Homo sapiens: one gene and its partners. The protein of the gene in region 1 purifies or fractionates together with the protein of each later gene. This does not show direct contact. Each region holds a gene or a part of one and is shown on either strand. Other genes may lie near its edges.

Region 1 (3,500 bases):
GCTGCTTGGGTCCTAATATCCAGAGTGTCCCATCTGTGTTGGTACAGTGGGCTGCTTCTCAACAAAGTGTTGGGACCAACCATTTTTCTGTTCCTCCAGGCCTGGGCATCCTGAAGTGAAACCACCTGACACACTTCCTGCGATCTTTGAAATCATCTCCATCCTGAAAACTCCTCCCATTCACAGTTCTCCTTCCCAGCCAGTAGTGGATATAGGAGCAGACCAGCATATAGGCTTACCAGGACTGATTTTGTTTATTTAGAGGGATACAAAACATTCTTTCCCATTGCCTTTTTTGTTAACTTGCTTTCAGACTCTACAAGGTTTTTAGAACTAGTTTCACTGATTTTTAAACTTCTTGAATTGAACCTTCTGGAATGCTTAATTTAGGTAGTCAGATTACATGGGGGGAGGAACCATAAAGATCATCTTTCTGGCCAGCTTTACTGTTCTCTCATAAGCTAGTCTGGCCATTGTGAAGAAAGGGATGTGGCACAGGTTGTCCATCACCTCTGCCAGGGCATGTGACCCTGCAAAAACTACTTCAAGGAATGAACTTTTTGAACACCCTGCTTTATAAAGGCCTAAGCCAAGACCTATGGCTTTAGATTCATTTCTGTTTTGTGCTCATTTATGATCCAGGCTGTGTTTGAATGACCTGGAAAAAGCTCGTTCGTATCTTCCAGTTTAACCAACCAGTCCTTAATGTTCACTTTCTATTAGCTTATTTTGTTCTTGAGATACTGCCACTATTCTTGCTGTCCATTGCTATGGATACACCAAGCTAAAAACTCAAGTTTTCTGTTCAGTGTTTTATTGCATCCAGTCATCAGCAATGCTGTTTTCCTCAAGTAGAAAGCTGATCCTTGACATAGGTACATGGTCTTTCATGGTGTCCTCCAGAAAAGATATTAAATGATCATTTTGACCAGGCACAGTCGTTCACACATGTAATCCCAGCACTTTGGGAGGCCAAGGCTGGTGAATCACCCAGGAGTTTGAGACCAGCCTGGGCAATATGATGAAACACCATCTCTAAAGATTAGCTGGGCATGGTGGCGTGTGCCTGTAATTCCAGCTACTCAGGAGGCTGTGGTGGGAGGATCACCTGAGCCTGGGGAAGTTGAGGCTGCAGTGAGCCATGATTGCGCCACTGCAGTTGAGCCTAGGCAGTGAGACTCTGTCTCAAAAAAAAAGGTAGGGGAGATAACTTTTTCCTTAAAATGACATGCTAATTTATTTTTCTAAGTAATTTATAATTTGAAAATTTGGAAATGTTTTCTGCTGTCACAAAAACTATTTTCATACCCATTTAAAATGTTCCTGCATTAGCATTTTTAACATTCTATTCTACTTGTTTGCATTTCTTTTTTTTAAATGTTCATAGCACAAGATAAATTCCACTTTGCTGTCCTCTTTACTTGTTGTGGGTTTTTTTTCCCTGCATTTACTTTGCTTTGAAAAAAGCATTCTGACATTTTTTTTGACAGTCCTTTTTTAATGTCATCCAAACCAAAATTTCACTGGCTACCCATTTCTTTTTTTTTTTTTTTCTTTTTTTTGAGACAGGGTCTCACCCTGTTGCCCAGGCTGGAATGCAGTGTCACGATCTTGGCTCACTGCAGCCTCGACCTCCTGGGCTCAGGTGATCCTTCCACCTAAGCCTCCCAAGTAGCTGGGACTATAGACATGCACCACCATGCCTGCCTAATTTTTGTATTTGTAGAAATAGGGTTTCACTATGTTACTCAGGCCAGTCCTGAACTCCTGGGTTCAAGTGATCCTCCTATGTTGGCCTCCCAAAGTGCTGGGATTACAGGAATGAGCCACTATGCCTGGCTTTTTTTGTTTTTTTTCTTTTGAGACAAGGTCTCACTGTGTCACCCAGGCTGGAGTGCAGTGGCGCAATTATGGCTCACTGCAGCCTCGACCTCCTGGACTCAAACGATCCTCCCACCCCAGCCTCCCAAGTAGCTGGGACTACAGGCACATGCCTCCACACTCGGCTAATTTTTTTGTGTAGATGGGGTCTCGAACTCCTGGCCTCAAGTGATCCTCCTGCTTTGGCCTCCCAACATGCTGGGATTATAGGCATGAGCCACCAGACCCAGCCCCTAAAATATTCATATACTTTTAAATTTATGCTCTTATTCTTTTATTTTTATTCCCCATGTTTTCTGCAAGTTGCTGCCTAATGGTTTTTCACTGACCTTTCTATACTACTACATTCTCTTCTCTTATTTAATATTGAGTTATGTTTGATTATTTTTCCTCCTTTTTGTTTATCCATTAGCCTTCTATTTTTTTTAGACAGAACACATTTTAGCTTTCAAAAATGGCTTTATAAGATGCTTTAGTCTTTTTTTTCTAAGTATCCTACAACATCCACAGTCTCTGTCTCAATATGTCCTAATTTGTTTGTTGAAATTATAACAAAAACTTTTCAATTTTAGGAAAATATAAGTTAATTTCTAGTTTTCCTTCCTCTAGAAAATACACTGGCTACTTTTTAATCATGTGTGTTTATTTTTCCATAGGCAATCAAAAAAGCAGCCACAACAGCTGGTGGCACTCAGGCACAGCTTGTGGTTTATTGTTTCTAAAGGACATTCTTTTTTTTAACTCGTAGTTTCATTTTATTCTCCGTCTGAAATGTGCCTGAAAGATTAATCTGTATAGCCTTTGAGGACTGACTCAGGACCAATATGTAGGGTTATAGAGAGGCAGGTTTTGGCTCAACCCAAGAAAATTGTTCTTACAGTACGAGCTTTTGTAAAAGACAATTTTTCTGGAGAAGTAGTAGTTCCCTGTCATTGGAGCCATTAGGAAAGAGACTGGTTTTTCTGCCTTGTTACCCTAGCCATCTTTTTTCATTTCTAGTAGTTCTTACTGAACCAGGAATTAGAGAGTTAGTGAGGGCTGGGCACGGTGGCTCACGCCTGTAATCCCAGCACTTTGGGAGGCCAAGGTGGGTGGATCACCTGAGGTCGGGAGTTCGAGACCAGCCTGACCAACATGGAGAAACCCCGTCTCTACTAAAAACACAAAAATTAGCCAGGCATGGTGGCGCACGCCTGTAATCCCAGCTACTTGAGAGGCTAAGGCGGGAGAATCACTTGAACCCAGGAGGCAGAGGTTGTGGTGAGCTGGAGGTTGTGGTGAGCCGAGATCATGCCATTGCACTCCAGCCTAGGCAACAAGAGTGAAACTCTGTCTCAAAAAGAAAAAAAGAGAAAAGAGAGAGTTAGTGAGGTCAGTCCCTAACACAGGATAGAAAGGATGGGTGTTGTCAACTATTTATTGGTATGGGGGGAATCCTCTCACAAGAAGCAGGAAGGGTAGGGCATTAAGAGGTTTGGGGACAACAAAAAGTTACTTACATTAGCTCATTACTCTAGTTATGGGTTTAAATAGACTCTATTCAGTTGAAGAAAGACAGGTCCTTAGCAGGTATTGAAACAGATGTGAGACTGCAGCTCTAAGGGTGCTTCCAGATCTGA
Region 2 (3,500 bases), on another chromosome or scaffold:
GTCTCGAACTCCTGACCCCAAGTGATCCACCCACCTTGGTCTCCCAAAGTGCTGGGATTACAGATGTGAGCCACTGCATCCGGTCACATTTGTTTTTTTAATTGCTATAAATTTTTACTGTTGGTCCTAGATCTGGGGCAGATGAGAGGCTGTTTCTTCACAGTGGAGCCAGTAATTACAGGATCCTTAAGGAATGAGGACATCGGTATACCCACTTGAAAAAATATCAGTGTTTCATCCAGGTTAAATATCAGCCGAGATCTCACATACACTAATGATTCTAGATCTGGAGCAGTGGTTCTCAGTGTGGACCAAGAACCCCTTTCAGGGAGCCTACAGAGTCCAAACACTTTTCATTATACCAAGATTGTTTTCCTTTGTTACTGCATCAACATTTACATTGTTGGTGTAAAAGCAGTGATAAGTAAAACTGCTGATGCCTTAGCATGAATCAAGCCAGTGGCACCAAACTGTTCTAGTAGGCGTATTCTCTGTTCTCAGACCATTGCAGTTAAAAAGAAAAAAAAAGGCCAGTTTCACTCAAGAATGCCCTGAACAGTAAAAATTATTAAAGTCGTGACCCTTGAGCTACATGTCTTTTTATTCTGTGTGATAAAATGGGAAGTACGCATAAAGCATTTCTGTTGCATACCAAAATATGATAGCCATTTCAAGGAAAAGCACTTATGTGTTTGAGTTGTAAGGTGAACTAGCTACTTTTTTTCATAGAACACCACTTTCACTGGACAAAATCAATGACATTTCAAGGAAAACAATTGAAAGTGTTTATTACCCATGATAGACATTCAAGCTTTCGGCCAGACGCAATGGCTCACGCCTGTAATTTCAACACTTTGGGAGGCTGAGGCGGGTAGATCGCTTGAGCTCAGGAATTTGAGATAAGCCTGGGCAACTTGGTGAAACTCCATCTAAATTTTGTTTTTTAATAACAAAATTCAGGCTGGGTATGGTGGCTCATGCCTGTAATCCCAGCACTTTGGGAGGCCGAGGCGGGTGGATCACCTGAGGTCAGCAGTTTGAGACCAGCCTGACCAACATGGAGAAACCCCATCTCTACTAAAAATACAGAATTAGCCAGGCATGGTGGTGCATGCCTGTAATCCCAGCTACTCGGGAGAGTGAGGCAGGAGAGTCACTCAAATCCAGGAGGCGGAGGTTGCAGTGAGCCGAGATCATGCCATTGCACTCCAGCCTGGGCAATAAGAACAACACTCCATCTCAAAAAAAAAAAAAAATTCAAGCTTTCAAGCAAAAATTAGAATTTGGAAAACTTACATCTACCACAGTAGGCTTGACAGCTTTTCAGTACTTAAAGACCATTGTGACAAAATTGATGGTGATATTAGTAACTGATTTTTAATATAATGAAATGTGTTAACATTTGGATGATCTGTATATAACCTCAGTGAACCAATATTTTCCAAATGATCAATGTATGACATTACAAAGTCAAGCATGAATAAAAGCTCAACTCAAAATACATGATAAATAAATGGATTATAATGTAACAGAGTGTGAAAACTTCAGTAATATGGTTTCAGATTACACAATGAAAATAACTTTTAGGAAATGACCACTTGTCAAGTTTTAGTGTAAAATAAAAAGTATCTGAAAAGGGCTGGGTGCGGTGGCTCATGCCTGTAATTCCAGCACTTTGGGAGGCCAAGGTGGGCAGATCACTTGAGGGCAGGAGTTTGAGACCAGCCTGGCCAACATGGTGAAACCCCCGTCTTTGGGATTGGTGGCAGGCATCAGTAATCCCAGTTACTCAGGAGGCTGAGGCAGGGGAATCACTTAAACCTTGGAGGAGGAGGTTGCAGTGAGCTGAGGTTGTGCCACTGCACTCCAGCCTGGGAGACAGAGCAAGACTCCATCTCAAAAAAAAAAAAAAAAAAAGGTATCTGAAAAGGCTACTAAAATACTGTCCTCTCTTTTTCAACTACGTATTTTTCCTTTGCTTTTTTTTCTTTTTTTGAGATGGAGTCCTGCTCTGTCGCCCAGGCTGGAGTGCAGTGACGCAACCTTGGCTCACTGCAACCTCCTCCTCCTCCCGGGTTCAAGAGATTCTCCTGCCTCAGCCTCCCGAGTAGCTGGGACTACAGGTGTGTGCCACTACGCCCGGCTAATTTTTGTATTTTTGGTAGAGACGGGCTTTCACCATGTTGGCCAGGCTGGTCTTGAACTCCTGACCTCAAGTGATCCATCGGCCTCAGCCTCCCAAAGTGCTGGGATTACGGGTATGAGCCACTGCTCCAGGCCTGGAGGCAAGAATTTCTTATAGGCTTAAATAAAACCAACCTATTGCAATAATTTGAATATAGTAGGAGCTATTTAAGTCGACATTAATAAAGAGATTTGTGAAAATACAATAGTGTCACTCTTCTTCCAATTTTTTTTATGTATCCAGAACTATGATTTTTTTTTTTAACTACCTATAGAATGCTTATATTTTTCTTAAAAAATAAGTTTAAGAACCAGGCATGGTGGTGCATGCTTGGAGTCCCAGCTACTGGAGAGGCTGAGGCAGGAGAATCACTTGAGCCCAGGAGTTTGAGTCTAGCCTGGGCAACATAGCAAGACCCTGTCTCTGAAAAAAAAAATAGTTTATAAAAAATAATTTAGCCAAATTGATAGGTGGTGATGTGCTTATGTTTTGTATACCTACTACACTAAGCTATGAAAAGAATAATAGAAGTGACTACTACTTTCTGGAATTGGAAATTCTTGGCCATACATTTTTTAAAAGTTATAAACAACTCCATGTTTTTAAACAGAATAGAACTCCCTCTAAAAGCAGAGCTATCTCCAAAATAAATATTAGGAGTGTTTTTAAATGCTTAGAGCTAGGTTAAACAGCTTTATTCAAAACATATTTAAATGTTATATGGTGAAATATCTTCTCTGTCCTCTGAGGTCTTTGGCATTATAGAGAGATTCCTTAGTCTGCTTCAATGTTGTTCAAATTCGAGGTTTCCTTAAGAGTCTCTTTAGGAAGTAGGTTGGTGTTAGGCTAGGCACAGTGGCTCATGCCTGTAATCCCAGCTACTTGGGAGGCTGAGGTGGCGTGAGAATTGTTTGAACCGGGGAGGTGGAGGCTGCAGTGAGCCAGGATCGCACCACTGCACTACAGCCTGGGTGACAGAGCGAAACTGTCTCAACCAATAAAAGAAGTAGGTTGGTGTTTATATTGAAAATAGGAACAGAAAACAAACTAGCTATACTTTTTAGGATCTAAGCTGAGAATAAATTAATTTTTTTGCTTTCTCTAGCTGGAATGGCTTTACTTGTGTAAAATTTGGAAAAGATTATTTTGCAATAAAATCAAACTTACAGAATTGACTCTTGAATTCTAGACTAACTTTGAATAATTGGACCTGCAGATTGACTATCCACCATTTGAAAAAAACTTTTACAATGAGCATGAAGAGATAACCAACCTCACTCCACAGCAGTTAATAGATCTCCGGCATAAGCTCAAT
Region 3 (3,500 bases), on another chromosome or scaffold:
CTATGTTGGCCAGGCTGGTCTCGAACTCCTGACCTTGTGATCTGCCTGCCTCAGCCTTCCAAAGTGCTGGGATTACAGGCATGAGCCACCGTGCCCGGCTTTACCTCTTTTTAAATTGGGTTGTCATTTTATTATGGATTGTAAGAGTTCCTTTAGTATCTTATTAGATATATGGTTTGTAAGTATATTCTCCTGTTCTGTGGGTTGTCTGTTCACTTTTCTTGAAAATATCCTTCGAAGCACAAAAGTTGTTTTGAGGAAATACATTTTTTGCTGCTGTTGCTGGTGCTTTAGTGTCCTACCTAAGAAACCATTGCCTAATCCGAGGTCACAAAGATTTCCACTATGTTTTCTTCTAAGAATTTTGTTGTTTTAGTCCTTGAGTTTAGGTCTTTCATACATTTTGAAATTTTTTTTTTTTAATAATAAGAGAGAGGGGGTTCAACTTCATTCATTTGCATATGGATATCCAGTTGTCCCAGCACCTTTTGTTGAAGACTGTTTACCATTAAATCGTCCATCGTCTATTTACCATTAAATTTTCTAGCACCCTTGTGGTTTAATATACAAATAATTATAAAAATCACTTACTATGGATACAACAGAAGGATTGGACATGCTTATCTTGCATTTCACATTAAAGCACCCTGGTATACTGTGTAACACAAAGCATCATGGCCAGGCATGATAACTCATGCCTGTACCCTCATGCACTTTCGGAGGCTGAGGTGGGAGAATCGCTTGAGGCTAGGAGTTCAAGTCCAGCCTGGGCAACAGCGAGACCCCGTCTCTATAAAAAAAAAAAAAGTGTGGTGGCACGCACTGGTAATGTTAGGTACTTGGAAGGCTCAGGTGGGGAGAATTGCTTGAGCCCAGGTTTGAGGTTGCAGTGAGCTAGGATTGTGCTACTGCACTCCAGCCTGGGCAACAGAGGGAGATCCTGTCTCTAAAATAAAAAGAAAAAGCGATATGAAATGACCACAACATACCACAGTTTGAGAAGGATGGGTTTACACAAGTAATCTAGAGAGTTTTTTGATGTTACTGCTGTTTCTTTTCCATTGTGAAATGAGGCTGGTGTTAGCTAGCCAGTGGGTACACTAGAGTCAGCAAAGATAGGCCTGGGCCATTTTGTGCTAGCTTTCTCCTTCCCTCCTGCTCTTCCTCTTTTCCTCCTTCCTGTAGTGGGACTTTAATACAGAGAATTGTTAACATAGGTGATGGAAGACTTGAGATGCCAAAAAGGGCATGATGAGGCAGTCGAGAGATTAGCAGCAGTAAGAAGCAAGTAGTGATATATAGAGGGATACAAGTAGGAGATGGTTCTTGGAGGCTGGGGACCAGAGTTACCTGGTGGGAACTGGGCTTGTCCAGAAGGAGCAGAAACATTTGGGAGATTCAGTCTTAGAGAGAAAGGTTCTCCTACCTTCCGGTCAAAGCCAATGGACAAGGGAGCTGCAGCTTATTTCTTAGTGAACGGAATATAAAACCATTCCTTAGAATAATTTCCTTACCTATAAAAAAATCAGTCTGGTTAATTCCAGCTTGTCTTTTTACTGAGAAGTAAATTTATTGAGTATATTTAAATATTTGTGAGATTTGGCCAGTCATGGTGGCTCAGGCCTATAATCCCAGCACTTTGGGAGGCTGAGGTGGGCAGATCACTTGAGGTCAGTAGTTCAAGACCAGCCTGGCCAATATGGTGAAACACCATCTCTACTAAAAATACAAAAATTAGCTGGACATGGTGGTGGGCACCTGTAATCCCAGCTACTCAGGCTGAGGCAGGAAAATCACTTGAACCCTGGAGGCAGAGGTTGAGTGAGCTGATATCAAGCCACTGCACTCCAGCCTGGGTGACAGAACGAGACTCCGTCTCAAAAAAAAAGATTAAAAAAAAATTTGTGTGATTTGACTATATATTAAAATCTCTTTCATAATTAGTCAACAATTTAAGCAACAATTAAATTATTAGTGCTGTGGAAAATATAGAAGAAAGATAATTTCTTATTCCCCTCCTGAGGAAAGCATTTGATACACCTGGAAAGGAGCTGCTATGAAGCCAATTTATCTGTTCTTTTTATCAATTCAGCAGCATTTAAGATCAGATTTTTTCTCTAGTGGTCCAGCAGAGGGAGCCCTAGCACATGAATTGTTTTCATTTTGTGCTTGCATCCAGGGTTAGTTTAGTGGGAAAGTGGTAGTCTATCCCTTTTAATTATAATTTAAGCAGTTCCTCCTTTCTTTTTTGAGACAGAGTCTAGCTCTGTCATCCAGGCTGGAGTGCAGTGGCGGCATCTCGGGTCACTGCAGCCTCCACCTCCCAAGTTAAAGCAGTTCTTGTGCCTCAGCCTCCCAAGTAGCTGGGATCACAGGCGTTCGCCACCAGGCCCAGCTAATTTTTGTATTTTTTGTAGAGATGGGGTTTTGCCATGTTGGCCAGGCTGGTCTTGAACTCCTGGCCTCAAGGGATCTGCCTGCCTCAGCCTCCCAAAGTGCTGTGATTGCAGGCGTGAGCCACCATGCGTGGCCTAGTAGATCCTCTTTTTCAAATTGTCAGAATAAGTTAGAAATAATTATCATTTTGTTCAAGGTGGGAGAGATGGTTGGGGGGGTGGTGAAAGTTTTTACACCATATGAGTAAGAAAGCATATTCTGATGCTGCTATCAATTCATAAGTGAGTGGTTTTGCTGTCATAATTTTCCGGTCTCACTGTCACCATGTTCATTCTTTTCTGTTGGATTATTTTAATTGTTTCATAACTAGTTTCCTTATTATCTGTCTTCTCAAATTATTTATGATATTGTCAGATTGATCTTCCTAAAGCACAGTTATAATCACTGATCCTCAGTCCTGAACGTAATTATATTTAAAATCTAAAGTGCTAATCTTGACTTTGAAAACCTTCTCTATGCTTTGCCCCTAGAATGCTTACTAGCATTTTCTCCTAACTGTTCCTCCATAAAAAGTACACTGTCGTGCTTGCAGTTTTTCACAGCTCTGCTTTTCTTTACACTGGAAGTCTTCTCCCCATTTTTTTAATGTCCAAATTATAGCCATCCTTCAAAACCCAGCGCAAAAGCTACTTCTTTCAAGATACCTTCTTTGATTTTCCTCACTGGAAAGAATCTCTTCCTTTTTCTTACACTCTTTACCTTTCTTATTGCACTTAGCTTTTAAAAGCTTGCATTATAAGTTGTTTACATACATGTCTTGTCACTGTACTAGATAAAGTATGAGCTCTATGAGTTAGGATCTGGCCATCTAGCCTAGCTTCGTATTTATTTTTTGAAACAGAGTCTTGTTCTATTGCCCAGGCTGGAGTGCAGTGGTGCGATTTTGGGTCACTGCAACCTCCGCTTCCCAGCCTGAGCAATCTTTTAGCCTCCGCCTCCTGAGTAGCTGGGACCACCGGTGCGAGACACCACTCTCGGCTCATTTTTGTATTTTTTTGTAGAGACAGGGTTTCGCCATGTTGCCCAGGCGGGTCTCAAGCTCT
Region 4 (3,500 bases), on another chromosome or scaffold:
TTGAATCTAGCCCAGGCAACATAGTGAGACCCAGTTTCTTAAAAGATATATACATTTTAACTTGTCAGAGAAATAGGCTTAATTACTTTCCTGGTAAATAGCAGTGGCGTTCACTTTGCTCGCCACTAAAAAAAAATTTAAAGAATTGTCTAGCTTAAAAACGGCTTTATTCATACACAAATTTAAATCAGTCAGTTCTCTGTGTCTCTGTATATTTTGAATGCCTACCAAATAAATTCACTAAGACTATTGTTTGGAAAAAAATGTGAAAGAAGAAGTTAAAATAACACTGGTGGTTGGTGATTGGTGACTATTTTATTTTTTTGAGACCGAGTCTCTGTTGCCCAGGCTGGAGTGCAGTAGCGCAATCTTGGCTCACTGCAACCTCTGCGTCCCAGGTTCAAGTGATTCTCCTGTCTCTGTCTCCCGAGTAGCTGGGATTACAGGCACGCACCACCATGCCGTGCTAATTTTTGTATTTTTAGTAGAGACGGGATTTCACCATATTGGCCAGGCTGGTCTCAAACTCCTGACCTCAGGTGATCCGCCAGTCTCAGCCTCCCAAAAGTGTTGGGATTACAGTCATAAGCCACTGCACCTGACCGTGACTATGTTATTTTAAAGGCGTTCCACGATTTTCATTCATTGTGCTGGGTGCCTCAAGACATGGGTTTTTTAAAAGGTAAAACTTAACAAAACAAATAAATACTGTTAAGCAACCCCATGTTGTCTGCACTTCTCATTCACCTTTGCTTCCAAATAATGTGATCTGAAGAATGTTATCCAATATTCAATAGGTTCTCAATAAATATTTTGTGATAAACCTGTTGTGACCAGGTTGGTATACACATCCACTTGGCTAAATGTGGGATATTAAATTGTAAAATGTTAATGTTAAAGCGTAAATTTATATAAATGAAATATATATGGCCTATATTTATTGTCAGTATAAACTATCCAAGAGGGCCGTTAGGTTTCTTAACAAGAAACCTTTTTCTTGAGCTTTAGAAGAAAGTCGTTGATGATAAAGCTAATTTAGCTGTTTTAGCACAGGCCCATTGTATGTAATACATTATGCCATTGACTCAATGTTTCAAGTTTTCCAGATTGACCTGGTCAGACTTTAGTTGTGATTTGTGACATTTGCATTGAGAGATGAGTTGAGACTGGTAAAGATCCATTGTATGCCTAGCCCCTGTATAAGAAAATGCTATAATTAAGGTTAACCTGATTGTACCGAGCTGGTAGCATTTTTAGCAGGAACCTACTCATTATTTCTTGAGATAATACTCATTAATTTACAATGGAAACTAGTCACTCATGGGAATGACCCTTCTACAGTGATACTGGTCATCATGATGTATTTCTAATTCCCAGAAGCTCTAGGAGCTAGATTTTCTGTTGATAGAAGTTGATTCCTCTATGGGTAGACTCTTAACAATTTTTAATGAAACTCCTAAGATTTTTGTAAATTGTTAGCATTAGAAAAGATAAGGTTCAAAAAACTGATTTTCCTTTGGGAGGGGTTGATGAAATGTAAGTAATTTTGAATATCACGCAGTCAGAAAATAGGTGTGTGCCTACTATGTGTGTGCACTGTGTGAGGCACTGGAGATAAAACTGAGCAAAGCAAAAATCTTAACTTTCAAGTTCTAAGAGTCTATAATAGATAGTGTAAATCAGCTTTAGACAACTTTTATATGCTTTTTGTTTGTTTTTGAGACAGAGTTTTGCTCTTTTTGCACAGGCTGGAGTGCAATGGTGTGATCTCAGCTCACCACAACCTCCGCCTCCTGGGTTCAAGCAGTTCTCCTGCCTCAGCCTCCCGAGTAGCTGGGATTACAGGCATGTGCCACCACGCCCGGCTAATTTTTTTGTATTTTTAGTAGAGATGGGGTTTCTCCATGTTGGTCAGGCTGGTCTTGAACTTCTGACCTCAGGTGATCCACCCGCCTCAGCCTCCCAAAGTGCTAGGATTACAGGTGTGAGCCACTGTGCCCAGCCTTTTTTTTTTTTTTTTGGAGACAGAGTCTTGTTCTGCCACCCAGGCTGGAGTGCAATGGCGCAATCTTGGGTCACTGCAGCCTTCGCCTCCCAGGTTCAAGCACTTCTCCTGCCTCAGCCTCCGGAGTAGCTGGGATTACAGGCATCCGCCATTATGCCCGGCTAGTTTTTTGTATTTTTGTAGAGACAGGGTTTCACCATGTTGGCCAGGCTGGTCTTAAACTCCTGACCTCAAGTGATCTGCCTGCTTGGGCCTCCCAAAGTGCTGGGTTTACAGGTGTGAGCCACCGTGCCCGGCCTTATGTTATTCTATATATATAATTAACACAAACAATACTTACTGAGCACCTGCTATAGATTAGATAATCTAGGCCCTCAGAGATAGAGCAGTGAACTAAAATGAAAATTCTGCTCATATAGTGCTTACATTATGATAGGGAGAGACAAACAAGAATTATATTAGTGGTAACAATTGCTTTGGAGAAAAATGTTAAGCACAGAAGGAGAATATGTGTGCAGTGGAGTGGTTTTGCATTTAAAATGGATTGATCAGGAAAACTTGTTTGAGAAAGTGACGTTTTAGCAAAGACAAGGTAGGCCAAGGTAGCCAGGAATGCATGTATCTGGGGAAAGCATTCCTGGCAGGAGAAACAGGTCCCACGTACCTGAGATGTGAGTATGCCTATTCAAGGAACATGGTGTGGCTGGAGCAGGGTGACCGTGGGAGAAGAGTGTTAGGTTTAGAGTGTGGGGGATGTTGGGGCTGTAAGTATAGGACCTTTTGCTCTGAATAAGGTAGAAAGCAATAAAATTTCACAAAGAGTAGTGACATAATCTGACTTTTAAAGCATCTTAATCAAATGGAAGATCTTTTGACTGACTTGAAATAACAGCCTTCTCACTGGTTTGTTGTATGTGTGACCTTAGGCAAGTCCCTTGAAACTCAAAATTCTCAACTCAAATGGAGAGACATTTCTTGAACACTTAGTGTGACAGCCTTTTATACTATGAACTCATTTAATTTTCATAAGCCTATGATTTGTCAGTACTATTACCCCATTTTTTACAGTTGAGGAAACCGAGGCACAGAAGAGCAACTTGCCTAAGGGCACAATAGCTTTGTCATGTTGGAGGCAGCATTTAAACCAGGTAGTTTGACTCCAGAATCTATGCTCTTTGATGCTGTTCCTAAAAATAACATTCTTATTAGCAGCCCTCTCAGCTCCACAGGATTTTTGTGAATAAATATATTTATCTAGCATCTATACAATAATAATAGCTTATTTGGCGGAGGGGTGGGGGGGTGGGGTGGGGGTTGGTCCGTGCTAGGCACTGTCATAAGCATTTAACATCTATTCACTGTGTAAACTTCATAACACCTTTTCAGGTAGGTACTATTGTTTTCTCCGTCATGTAGATGAAATGCCTGAGGATCACTTGCCAAGACCACACAACTAGTAAGTAATGAAACTGGAATTTGAACCCAGGCAGTCTGG

What was found. The genes of interacting proteins can lie anywhere in the genome.
Region 2: the proteins of FAM76A (region 1) and DDX42 purify together in Homo sapiens (affinity purification with mass spectrometry, with the first as the bait; one large-scale study listed by BioGRID). This does not show direct contact.
Region 3: the proteins of FAM76A (region 1) and NSRP1 purify together in Homo sapiens (affinity purification with mass spectrometry, with the first as the bait; one large-scale study listed by BioGRID). This does not show direct contact.
Region 4: the proteins of FAM76A (region 1) and PRP4K purify together in Homo sapiens (affinity purification with mass spectrometry, with the first as the bait; one large-scale study listed by BioGRID). This does not show direct contact.

Annotation. Positions count from the first base shown.
Region 1 is NC_000001.11:27,749,961-27,753,460, forward strand, and holds part of FAM76A (protein FAM76A), read left to right. Parts: intron 1-99; coding exon of another isoform or gene 100-262; exon of another isoform or gene 263-1,586; intron 1,587-3,500.
Region 2 is NC_000017.11:63,801,670-63,805,169, forward strand, and holds part of DDX42 (ATP-dependent RNA helicase DDX42), read left to right. Parts: intron 1-3,401; coding exon 3,402-3,500. UniProt on the Homo sapiens protein: ATP-dependent RNA helicase that binds to partially double-stranded RNAs (dsRNAs) in order to unwind RNA secondary structures. Unwinding is promoted in the presence of single-strand binding proteins.
Region 3 is NC_000017.11:30,123,316-30,126,815, forward strand, and holds part of NSRP1 (nuclear speckle splicing regulatory protein 1), read left to right. Parts: intron 1-3,500. UniProt on the Homo sapiens protein: RNA-binding protein that mediates pre-mRNA alternative splicing regulation.
Region 4 is NC_000006.12:4,024,300-4,027,799, forward strand, and holds part of PRP4K (serine/threonine-protein kinase PRP4 homolog), read left to right. Parts: intron 1-3,500. UniProt on the Homo sapiens protein: Serine/threonine kinase involved in spliceosomal assembly as well as mitosis and signaling regulation. Connects chromatin mediated regulation of transcription and pre-mRNA splicing.